Regions from separate parts of the Homo sapiens genome. Here region 1 is linked to region 2. Evidence: fine-mapped expression QTL. Tissue or cell type: tibial nerve. Region 2 holds a variant in brackets; the other region holds the start of a gene. All regions are shown on one strand. Distances are from middle to middle.

Evidence for each region. PIP is the estimated chance that this variant, and not a neighbour inherited with it, causes the effect.
Region 1: it holds the start of NIPA1, and the variant in region 2 is fine-mapped to the expression of NIPA1 in tibial nerve (GTEx, PIP 0.94).

What each region holds. Positions count from the first base shown.
Region 1 is chr15:22,783,762-22,789,221 of GRCh38, forward strand. NIPA1 (NIPA magnesium transporter 1) reads left to right here and starts at 2,883. Exons shown (of 5, transcript NM_144599.5): 1 at 2,883-3,073. The coding sequence starts at 2,896. RefSeq lists silencers at 2,555-2,788, 2,751-3,110, 3,181-3,330, 3,341-3,470 and an enhancer at 3,821-3,930.
Region 2 is chr15:22,817,982-22,822,981 of GRCh38, forward strand. It overlaps NIPA1 (NIPA magnesium transporter 1), which reads left to right. Exons shown (of 5, transcript NM_144599.5): 4 at 2,332-2,492. Among named protein-coding and RNA genes, the nearest start is that of NIPA2, 18 kb to the right of the region's middle. The variant C/T (reference allele first, on the strand shown) is at 3,079.

The sequences.
Region 1 (5,460 bases), 34 kb before region 2:
GTGAGCCAAGATCACGCCACTGCACTCCAGCCTGGGTGACAGAGCAAGACTCCATCTCAAAACATAAGACGAAAAAAAAATTTTTTAGGGAGCTGAAAAGTGAACTGATTTCCTCATTTCTCCTTGCAAGGAATCAATTGATAGCCCAAAATTGAAACCCAGAGTTAAAATAAACGTAACTCCCACCCTCTTAGTGTTTCTCACTTTTTTTTTTTTTTTTTTGAGACAGGGTCTCACTTCTGTTGCCCAGGCTGGAGTGCAGTGGCGTGATCATGGCTCACTGTAGCCTCAACTTCTGGGGTCAAGTGATCCTCCCATAGCCTCCTGAGTAGCTGGGACTACAAGCACATGTCACCATGCCTGGCTAATTTTTGTATTTTTTTGCAGAGATGGGGTTTCATCATGTTGCCCAGGCTGATCTCAAACTCCTGGGCTCAAGTGATCTGCTGGCCTTGGCCTCCCAAAGTACTGGGATTATAGGCATGAGCCACTGTACCTGGCCTACTAACTTTAATTTTAGGTGTATCTTTTAGGAAGTAATATCTCATGGCAAAATAATGTTTGTCATTCAGTAGTTACTGTAGTTTCATTTCAGTTTTTCTTTTGTTAAATTCAAGCAAAATATAGTTTTATGTTTTTAATTAAAATCCCATATGTGTTTCCCCATCAGATAAAATATGCCTGTCATTTAACCTATGTACTCACATGGAAAAATGTCTGGGGTGGAGTTCTTTTTTTTTTCTTTTTTTTTTTGAGACGGAGTCTCACTCCGTCGCCCAGGCTGGAGTGCAGTGGTGCCATCTCGGCTCACTGCAAGCTCCGCCTCCCGGGTTCACGCCATTCTCCTGCCTCAGCCTCCTGAGTAGCTGGGACTACAGGCGCCCTCCACCATGCCCGGCTAATTTTTTGTATTTTTAGTAGAGACCGGGTTTCATCGTGTTAGCTAGGATGGTCTCGATCTCTTGACCTCCTGATCCATCCACCTGACCTCCGGATCCGTCCGCCTCCGCCTCCCAAAGTGCTGGGATTACAGTCATGAGCCACCTCCCCGGCCCTATTTTATATTTCTTCACAAAATAATAATGCTGTATGCAAAGCTGCCAAAAGGTTTATACTTTTCGTTTGTTTTTGAGACAATCTTGCTCTGTTGCCCAGGCTGGAGTGCAGTGGTGCAATAACAGCTCACTGCAACCTCCACCTCAAGCCATCCTCCCACCTCTGCCTCCAGAGTATCTGGGGTTGGAGGTAAAAGCCACCACGCCCCGCTAATTAATTTTTTTCTTTTTTTGGTAGAGACGGGTCTCGCTACGTTGCCCAGGCTGGTCTTGAACGTCTGAGCTCAAGCGAGCCTCCCACCTCGGTCCCCAAAGTGCTGGGATTATAGGTGTGAGCCACTGTGCCCAGCTTGTAGCATCGTTTATAGACAACAAAACCTGGCAGCAACCGGCCAGGCGCGGTGGTTCACGCCTGTAATCCCAGCACTTTGGGAGGTAGAGCGGACGGATCACCTGAGGTCAGGAGTTCAAGACCAGCCTTGCCAAGATGGTGAAACCGCGTCTCTACTCAAAATACAAAAATTAACCCGGGCGTGGTGGCGGACGCCTGTAATTCTAGATACTCGGAGGCTGAGGCCGAGAATCGCTTGAATCCGGGAGGCGGAAGGTTGCAGTGAGCCGAGATCGCGCCATTGCACTCCAGCCTGGGCGACAGAGCGAGACTCTGTCTCAAAAAAACAAACCAACCTGGTAGCTACCTAACACCCAACAATGGCTGAATGGTTAGACAAATTATTATACTGTCATTAGAATAATCATATTTATGTACCGATACAGAAACTGATATATATTAAATAAAAAGGAAATTTCGTATATTGTAATTGGAAACATGTAAAAGTATGTATACATTATGGGAAAACACCTAAAATACTAATAATTAGGTGAGGGTTGTGGAATTGAGTCACTTTAAAAAATATTTTTTTCCAAAAAAAATAAAATAACTTTTTCCTATTTTTCAAGCTTGTAATTTTGTTGTTGTTTCTTTTTTTTTTTTTTTTTGAGACGGAGTCTCGCTCTGTCGCCCAGGCTCGAGTGCAGTTGTGTGATCTCCGCTCACTGCAAGCTCTGCCTCCCGGGTTCACACCCTTCTCCTGGCTCAGCCTCCCGAGTAGCTGGGACTACAGGCCTCCGCCACGACGCCCAGCTAATTTTTTGTATTTTTAGTAGAGACGGGGTTTCACTGTGTTAGCCAGGATGGTCTCGATCTCCTGACCTTGTGATCCACCCGCCTCGGCCTCCCGAAGTGCTGGGATTACAGGCGTGAGCCACCGCGCCCGGCTTGTTGTAGTTTATTAAAACGAGGAAACTAGACTATGGGATCACAAGCCCAGAGCCCCATGTAGCTGACTCTAGCGCCAAGGGCGGAAGAGAAACGCCCAGCGCCAGGGCTCTCCTTCGATCTCTGCAGCGGCGCGCCGGGCTTCGCGCTCCGGTGAGTTGGGCCGGCCTCCGCTGGAGGCTCTTCGGGGACCGCTGCCCGCCGGTGCGTCCTGCCGCGCTCCGCTGCCCGGATATTGCAGAGGACACCACTCAGAAAGTATGCGTGTTTCTCCGCGCTGGAAACTTAACCAGGAGTCCTGCATTTCCATTTGCGAAATCCGGGAACCCCCGCCCCACCCAGCGCCTCACCGGCCCCTCACTGCCGCCGCGTCCGGCGCCACTGCTGTCCCCGCAGCCTAAGGCGCCGGTCCCTGGCACCCCCGTCCCGCCCCCGCCCCTCTTCCTGCTCCTCCCCCACCCGTCCCCCTCCCCTCCCCCGCCCGCGCCTCCCGGTCACCCCCCATCCCGCCCCGCGGGGCGCGGCGCGCAGGCGCAGGCTCGGAGGGCGGGCGCGGGCGGAATGGGGACTGCAGCTGCGGCAGCGGCGGCGGCGGCGGCGGCGGCGGCCGGGGAGGGGGCGCGTAGCCCGAGCCCCGCCGCCGTGTCGCTCGGCCTGGGCGTGGCCGTCGTGTCGAGCCTGGTGAACGGGTCCACGTTCGTGCTACAGAAGAAGGGCATCGTGCGTGCCAAGCGGCGAGGTAGGGCGGGCGGCAGGCGGCAGGCGGCGGGCGGGTGGGGGAGGCGGGCGGCGGAGAAGGCGGTCGCAGGTGGGGGCGCCCGGGTCGGGGCAGGGGACGGGGTCGGGGCCCGGGCCCAGGTTGGGGGAAGGCTGCGCGGGCGGGTGCTCCCCGCGGCGTGCCCAGGCTGCCGCCGCGTCCTGGCGCTCGGGCCCGGGAGCGGCCCAGGAATCACAGGTGCGTCCTGAGCGTCCGGCGCTTCGCCGACGCCACGGCTTTTCTCCGTTCTCAGCGGCTGGAGCGGCTTGCTTTGGTGTGCGGGCTTCCCCGGCTGACTTTTTCCCTCGGTCCAAGACCTGCCCCGCGCCGCCCGGCAGCCCTCGCCGTGGCCCGCAACCCGCGGCCGGGAGCCTCCTGCGGACGCGGTGCTGGGGTGCTCGAGCCCAGCGCCCGCCTGGAAGCGCCGCTTCAGCCGATGCGCGGCCCGCTCCTAGGGTACGCTCGGTAGAGCAAGACCTGGGATTTCCAGTCCCCCGCAGGGGCCTCGCTGGTGCAAAAGGAAGACCCGGGCGGGCTCTCAGGGCTGTGCGTTCCTGGGGTGCTCTTACGGAGCCCGCTGCGCCTTAGACCTGCACCAAATGAATACAAGTGATCTTCAGTTTGGAGAACACGCGCGGCAGATCCAAAACCAAGCCCTGGACGGGCCAAGGCCACTTCCCAGGTGGATGTGCCGCAGCACCGCACTCCGTAGTGCTCTGCGGGGTAGAGCTCTCTGTCAGTGTCGTTTGTGCTGGGAGGCCCCGGACGGGACCGGTTTGCCAATGCAGGATATGGCAGGCTGTGAAACAGTCCGTTTCCATTGCTTCCAGAGGGACTGAGAAAGTCTTGTGGTTCTTGGCCATACTCTTAGAAGAAGAATATTAAGAGCTCTCTGGGAAGGATGTGGCCCCCGACTCTTGGGTTGTGAGAGAAAGTGAACTCGTAATTTACATGGCGGAATGCAGGTGAAACTTTCTCTGAGTGAGCCAGGCGTTGGCTTCAGAGAAGAGATAAAGGGCCCGACAGTCTCGAATGAAAATATAAAATCATGGATAATTTAAGGAATTTAGCTTTAAAGTGAAAGCATAGTGGTCTCCCATACAATTTAAATAGAATTAAATAAAACCAAGTATGATTTTCCAAGGATGCAGATGTGTCTGTCTCTAAGGCACACAGATACACACACACCGCAGCCACACTTCAGGGAGCATCTGTCCGTGTGACAGGCCCCAGGACTGGGTGAGATGGTCAACGCGCGTGACCTTATAAATAGGATGGCCTGAGAAAGCACCTCACCTCCCCAATCCACGGCCCTAGCGTAAGCATGAGGAAAACACCACACAAACCGGAGTAGAAGAACATCTTGCGGCCGGGCGCGGTGGCTGGTGCCTGTAGTCCCAGCACTTTGGGAGGCCGAGGCGGGCGGGTCACAAGGTCAGGAGATCTAGACCATCCTGGCTAACACGACGAAACCCCATCTCTACTAAAAATACAAAAAATTATCCCGGTGTGGTGGCACGCACCTGTAGTACCAGCTACTCGAGAGGCTGAGGCAGGAGAGTCTCTTGAACCCGGGAGACAGAGGTTGCAGTGAGCCGGGATCCGCCACTGCACTCAGCCTGGGCGGCAGAGCAAGACTCCATCTCAAAAAAAAAAAAAAAAATCTTGCAGTACACCTGACCAGTCCTCTGTGAAGGTCATGGAATCTGAAAGCACGTCACAACCAGGAGGAGCCTAAGAACACGTGAACACCAGATGTAAGACATTAGGGAAAAACGAAGGAAAGCTGAATACCAGCTTTAGTTAGTTTTCTAAAAAGTTGAGGAAAACTGTGTTATTTCAACCCAGGTCATGTGGCTCAAAGGAATTGGTGAATAGGAAAATAAACAAGCGAGTAGCCTTTTAAAAAAAACATGATAAGCTGGGTGCAGTGGCTCACACCTGTAATCCCAGCTACTCGGGAGGCTGAGGCAGGAGAATTGCTTGAACCCAGGAGGGGGAGGTTGCAGTGAGCCAAAATTGTGCCATTGCACTCCAGCCCGAGCGAGAAGAACAAGGCTCTGTCTTAAAAAAAAAAAAAAAAAAGATAAATGCTGTTTCTTATACCTATATACTATGCTTTCATTCATTTATTTATTTTTTATTATGATTTTTTTTTGAGACGGAGTTTCGCTCTTGTTGCCCAGGCTGGAGTGCAATGGCGCGATCTTGGCTCACTGAACCTCTGCCTCCCGGGTTCAAGCGATTCGCCTGCCACAGCCTCCCGAGCTGGGATTACAGGCGCGTGCCACCATATCTGGCTAATTTTGTGCTTTTACTGGAGATGGGGTTTCATCATGTTGGCCAGGATGGTCCCGAACTCCAGACCT
Region 2 (5,000 bases):
AGGTGGATCACGAAGGGCACAAACAACAGAAGGAAAATAGATAAATTCGATGTCATCAAAATTAAAAACCTTTCTGCTTAAAAGGATGCCATCAATGAATTGAAAACTCGTGGGAGAAAAAATTTCAAAGTATATATCTGATAAGGGACTTGTAGTTAGAACACATAAAAACTCTTGCCGGTCGTGGTGGCTCACGCCTGTAATCCCAGCACTTTGGGAGGCCGAGGCGGGTGGATCATGAGATCAGGAGTTCGAGACCAGCCTGGCCAACATGGTAAAACTCCGTCTCTACTAAATACAAAAAATTAGCCTGGTGTGGTGGCACATGCCTGTAATCCCAGCTACTTGGGAGGCTGAGGCAGGAGAATTGTTTGACCTCAGGAGGTGGAGGTTCCATTGAGCCGAGATTGCGCCATTGCACTCCAGCCTGGGCACCAAGAGGGAAACTCTGTCTCAACAAAAGAAAACGAAACAGAAACTCTTACAGTGCATCAGTAAAAAGTCAGATAACCCAATTTAAAAATGGCACTGTCAGCCAGGCGCAGTGGCTCATGCCTATAATCCCAGCACTTTGGGAGGCGAGGCGGGTGAATCACTTGAGGTCAGGAGTTTGAGACCAGCCTGGCCAACATGGTGAAACCCCGTCCTTACTAAAAATACAAAAATCCCCCAGGGCATGGTGGCGGGCATCTGTAATCCCAGCTACTCGGGAGGCTGAGGCAGGAGAATTGCTTGAACCCGGGAGGCAGAGGTTGCAGTGAGTCGAGACTGCTCCACTGCACTCCAGCCTGGGTCACAGAGTGAGACTCTGTCTCAATAAATGAATGAATGAATGAATGAAAATGGCACTGTCCTCTGGTATTCCACAATGGAATAAGAGATGATTTGGCCTCGTGGCTCATACTGTCCACTTTCGTGCATGGCAACCCTTTCCCATCTTGGCATAGTCCACCCGTTGTCCGAGGCCAGTTCCAGGCCCACTTTTTGCCCTGTGAGCCCCCTGCATTTCTGGTTTCTCCTTTTCCAGGCAGCTACTCGGTGGAGCTTCTCTATTTAACATCTAGTTGTGTATTCATGTCTTTTGTTGTTTCTTTCAGTGATGTTGCTTATTTCCCCAATGACACTGTTGGGAGCTTCTTAAGAACAGGCTGTCTAGGGACAAGGATGTGAAGTGGTACAAGGGAAAAGTAGGCCGTTTAGGACCTGTGGGTGTGTCATGACCGTGCTTGTATCTCTTGTTAGCTTTGTGGCCTTAGGTTCAATGCTGACCCTTTCTGAGGCTCAAGTTTCCTTATCTTTAAAATAGGTATTAAAGGAAGTAATCCGGTCCATACCTGAGCCTGGTATGCCCTCCTCCCGGACGTTCCTGTTTTCTGATCGTCTTCAGCACAGACATGAGTAAAGTGACAATGACCAGTCCTGTGACTTACTGAGGGCAAGGTGTTCCAATTCAGATTGTATACTGATAATTACACAGGGAAATAAGAGAAGAAACAAGTTAGAAGCCTGGAGATTATAGATGTTTTTGAAGAATACATTTTTTTGCATTAATAATGTGACCAGTTTTTAAAAGTTTTCAGTATTAGAGGAAATAGCCACCCCATACTACTTCTACTACTGCAATTACTATTAGCATTTTTATTTTTTCTTTTGTTTGTGCATTTTTCACTTAATTTATTTTGTTTTTATCATGCATTACTTATAATTATTTTGACAGTTTTTGTACCCTACTTTTCCATGTAGCATAGATATTAGTATTTTTGATTGGTTCCTTTTATAAGAAAGGAAGCATTACTTTTATTTTTGGTCAGTCATAAAACTTTTTATACTCTGGTGTATTTTATATGTGCTGACATAGTAATATAGTGGTGTAAATTATGTGTATCATTAACTACGTAGTGGTTATACATGGAATTGGTGTGAAAATCCTGGCCAGGCATGGTGGCTCACACCTATAATTCCAGCACTTTGGGAGTCCAAGGCAAGAGGATCGTTTGAGCCCAGGAGTTTGAGACTTGCCTGGGCAATCTAGTGAGACCCAGTCTCTACACAAAATTTTTAAAAAATTAGCTGGGTGTGGTGGCATGCACCTGTAGTCCCAGCTACTCCGGTGGCTGAGGTAGGAGGATCACTTGAGCCCAGGAGTTCAAGCTTGTGGTGAGCTGTGATTGCACCACTGCACTCCAGCCTGGGCAACAGAGTGGGAGGTGGTCTCTTAAAGGGAAAAAAAGAAGAAAAAGAAAATGGTTTTTCTAGATAAAATATCTGCTGTTAGAAGAAAGGTCAGGTAGTTTGGTTTAAACTTTAATGATTTCTCTTTTTTCAATAAAGGTCCATTTTAGCTTCCTATCTCCTGAAGGAAAAGCTCAACATCTTGGGCAAGTTGGGGTGCCTGCTAAGCTGTGCAGGCTCCGTCGTGCTGATTATCCACTCCCCAAAGTCTGAGAGTGTGACAACTCAGGCTGAGCTGGAGGAAAAGCTGACCAATCCAGGTAATTCCTTTCTAGCAGCACTGCCAAGAAAGTTTGCAGTAGGAGTGCCAACTTTTTTAACCACGTCTTCAAATTGGATGCTTCCTGGCAGGGCAGAGGAACCGTGTGTCCACCCTGATCTGTTACTGTAGATCTGTGTTCTCTGGGAACGTGCATCAGTGGGCTGTGCTCGCAGGCTAGCCCTCTGCCCTCACCCTCCCGCCTGATCCTCAGGCCCTGCGGGGAGCCTCCGTGGCCTGGTATTCCTTCGGGTTCTCTTCTGGGGCCTTGTGCATGGGCGCCTTCCCTTCCCACAGTGGCTCCCCTTGGGCCACCCTCCCAAGTCTGACTGCCACCCGCCCCTCCCCACATACCTTTCCTGGTGTACCCTGCCCACTCTATCTCCACCTCAGCACTTCACTCCCTCCAGCGTGAAGCTCTGTGAGAACAAAGACCTGGCATCTCTTAAGTTTAGATTCCTCATATAGCCCTGTTTATATATCTTTTGACATAATTTCTTTTCTTTTCTTTTTTTTTTTTTTGGAGACGGAGTCTCGCTCTGTCACCCAGGCTGGAGTGCAGTGGCGCGATCTCAGCTCACTGCGAG[C/T]TCCGCCATTCTTCTGCCTCAGCCTCCTGAGTAGCCGGGGACTACAGGCGCCTGCCACCATGCCCGGCTAATTTTTTTTGTATTTTTAGTAGAGATGGGATTTCATCATGTTAGCCAGGATGGTCTTGATCTCCTGACCTCGTGATCCGCCCACCTCGCCCTTCCAAAGTGCTGGGATTACAGGCGTGAGCCACCATGCCCGTCCTTTTTTTATTTTGATAAATACACTAAAAACTACTATCTACGTGATTACAACAGACTTAAAGTATAGATTTCACTTTAAGTAGACCACCCTGTGTTGCTTACCAACAAGTTTAGGCAGGTTCCAGCACAAAACTGCCTCCACATCAGTTTGCTGGTTTACATGTCCACACTCGCTGGTTTGCATGTCCATACTCGCTGGTTTGCATGTCCACACTCCCTGGTTTTCATATCCACACTCGCTGGTTTTCTCGTCCACACTCACTGGTTTTGTCCACACTCGGTGGTCTGCATGTCCACACTCGCTGGTTTTCTTGTCCACACTCACTGGTTTTCTTGTCCACACTGGCTGGTTTGCATGTCCACACCCTGGTTTGCATGTCCACACCCTGGTTTGCAAGTCCACACTCGCTGGTTTGCATGTTAACACCTAGTTTGCATGTCCACACTCACTGGTTTTCTTGTCCACACTCGCTGGTTTTCTTGTCCACACTCTCTGGTTTGCATGTCCACACTTGCTGGTTTGCATAGCCAGCAGTTCCCAGCCCTCTCAGGTCCATTTGTGATGTTGGAATGGATTTCATGGAAAACACAACCTCCTTATACACACAAGTTCAAACCATCAATTTAATGCCCTAACTGTAATATAAAGGAGAAATACCAGGACAATACTTTAAAACAAAACATCCCTTTCAATATGTAAATGCTCAGGTCCCACTATAAGAGAAGACCTATTGAAGCTGGCCGACCCCACACCTTGTGAGGAGTGGTTGAGAATCTGGTAGCTGCAGATATAGACTGACGTGGGGGTGTAATGTTATTGACTGGGACACTTGAGGTCTTGCTATCAACAAAATGATCCTCAGATGGAGCATAACTCTTAATGAAGTTTTGATCAAAGAACAATCCTCCCTCAATTTACATGGAAGTGACATGTCTGAAGAATTCAGCATATATTAAATCCATGCAAAAATTACTTTGTTTCATACATAAAATAGTTTCTAGGCTCTGATTATTATAGGCATATTTTTCAGTTACAAGTCCGAGGAGACATTCAGCAGTTGTGACGAGAATGGGATGATTTTTGATGGGGGTGGGGGTTGCTGTCTGCACATGCCTCTGCCCACTGGATGCAGCCCCCAATCATTGCAAAACCCACAAACACCCCCACAGCTTAAAGTCCTCCCTCCTGTCCCCTGCCTTACCCCTGCCCCCTGGATTCCCAGGTGCTTTTTTGAAACCTCGGAGCATCTCCATTCACTTGTATTGTTAAGAGAATGTTTCTAGGCCGGGCACAGTGGCTCACGCCTGTAATCCCAACACTTTGGGAGGCCGAGGACGGCGGATCACCTAAGGTCAGGAGTTCGAGACCAGCCTGGCCAACATGGCGAAACCCCGTCTCTGCTAAAAATATAATAGCCAGGCGTGGTGGCGGGTGCTTATGTATTCCCAGCTACTCAGGAGGCTGAAGCAGGAGAATCGCTTGAACCTGGGAGGTGGAGGTTGCAGTGAGCAGAGATCGTGCTATTGCAATCCAGCCTGGGCAACAAAGAGCAAAACTCCATCTCAAAAAAACAAAACAAACAACAAGAAAAAAAGAGAATGGTTCCAATAGAGGACCATGTAAACATTTAGGAGCTGTAAATGGTTTTTTTTTTTTTTTTTTTTTTTTTTTTGAGACGGACTCTTGCTCTGTCGCCCAGGCTGGAGTGCAGTGGTGT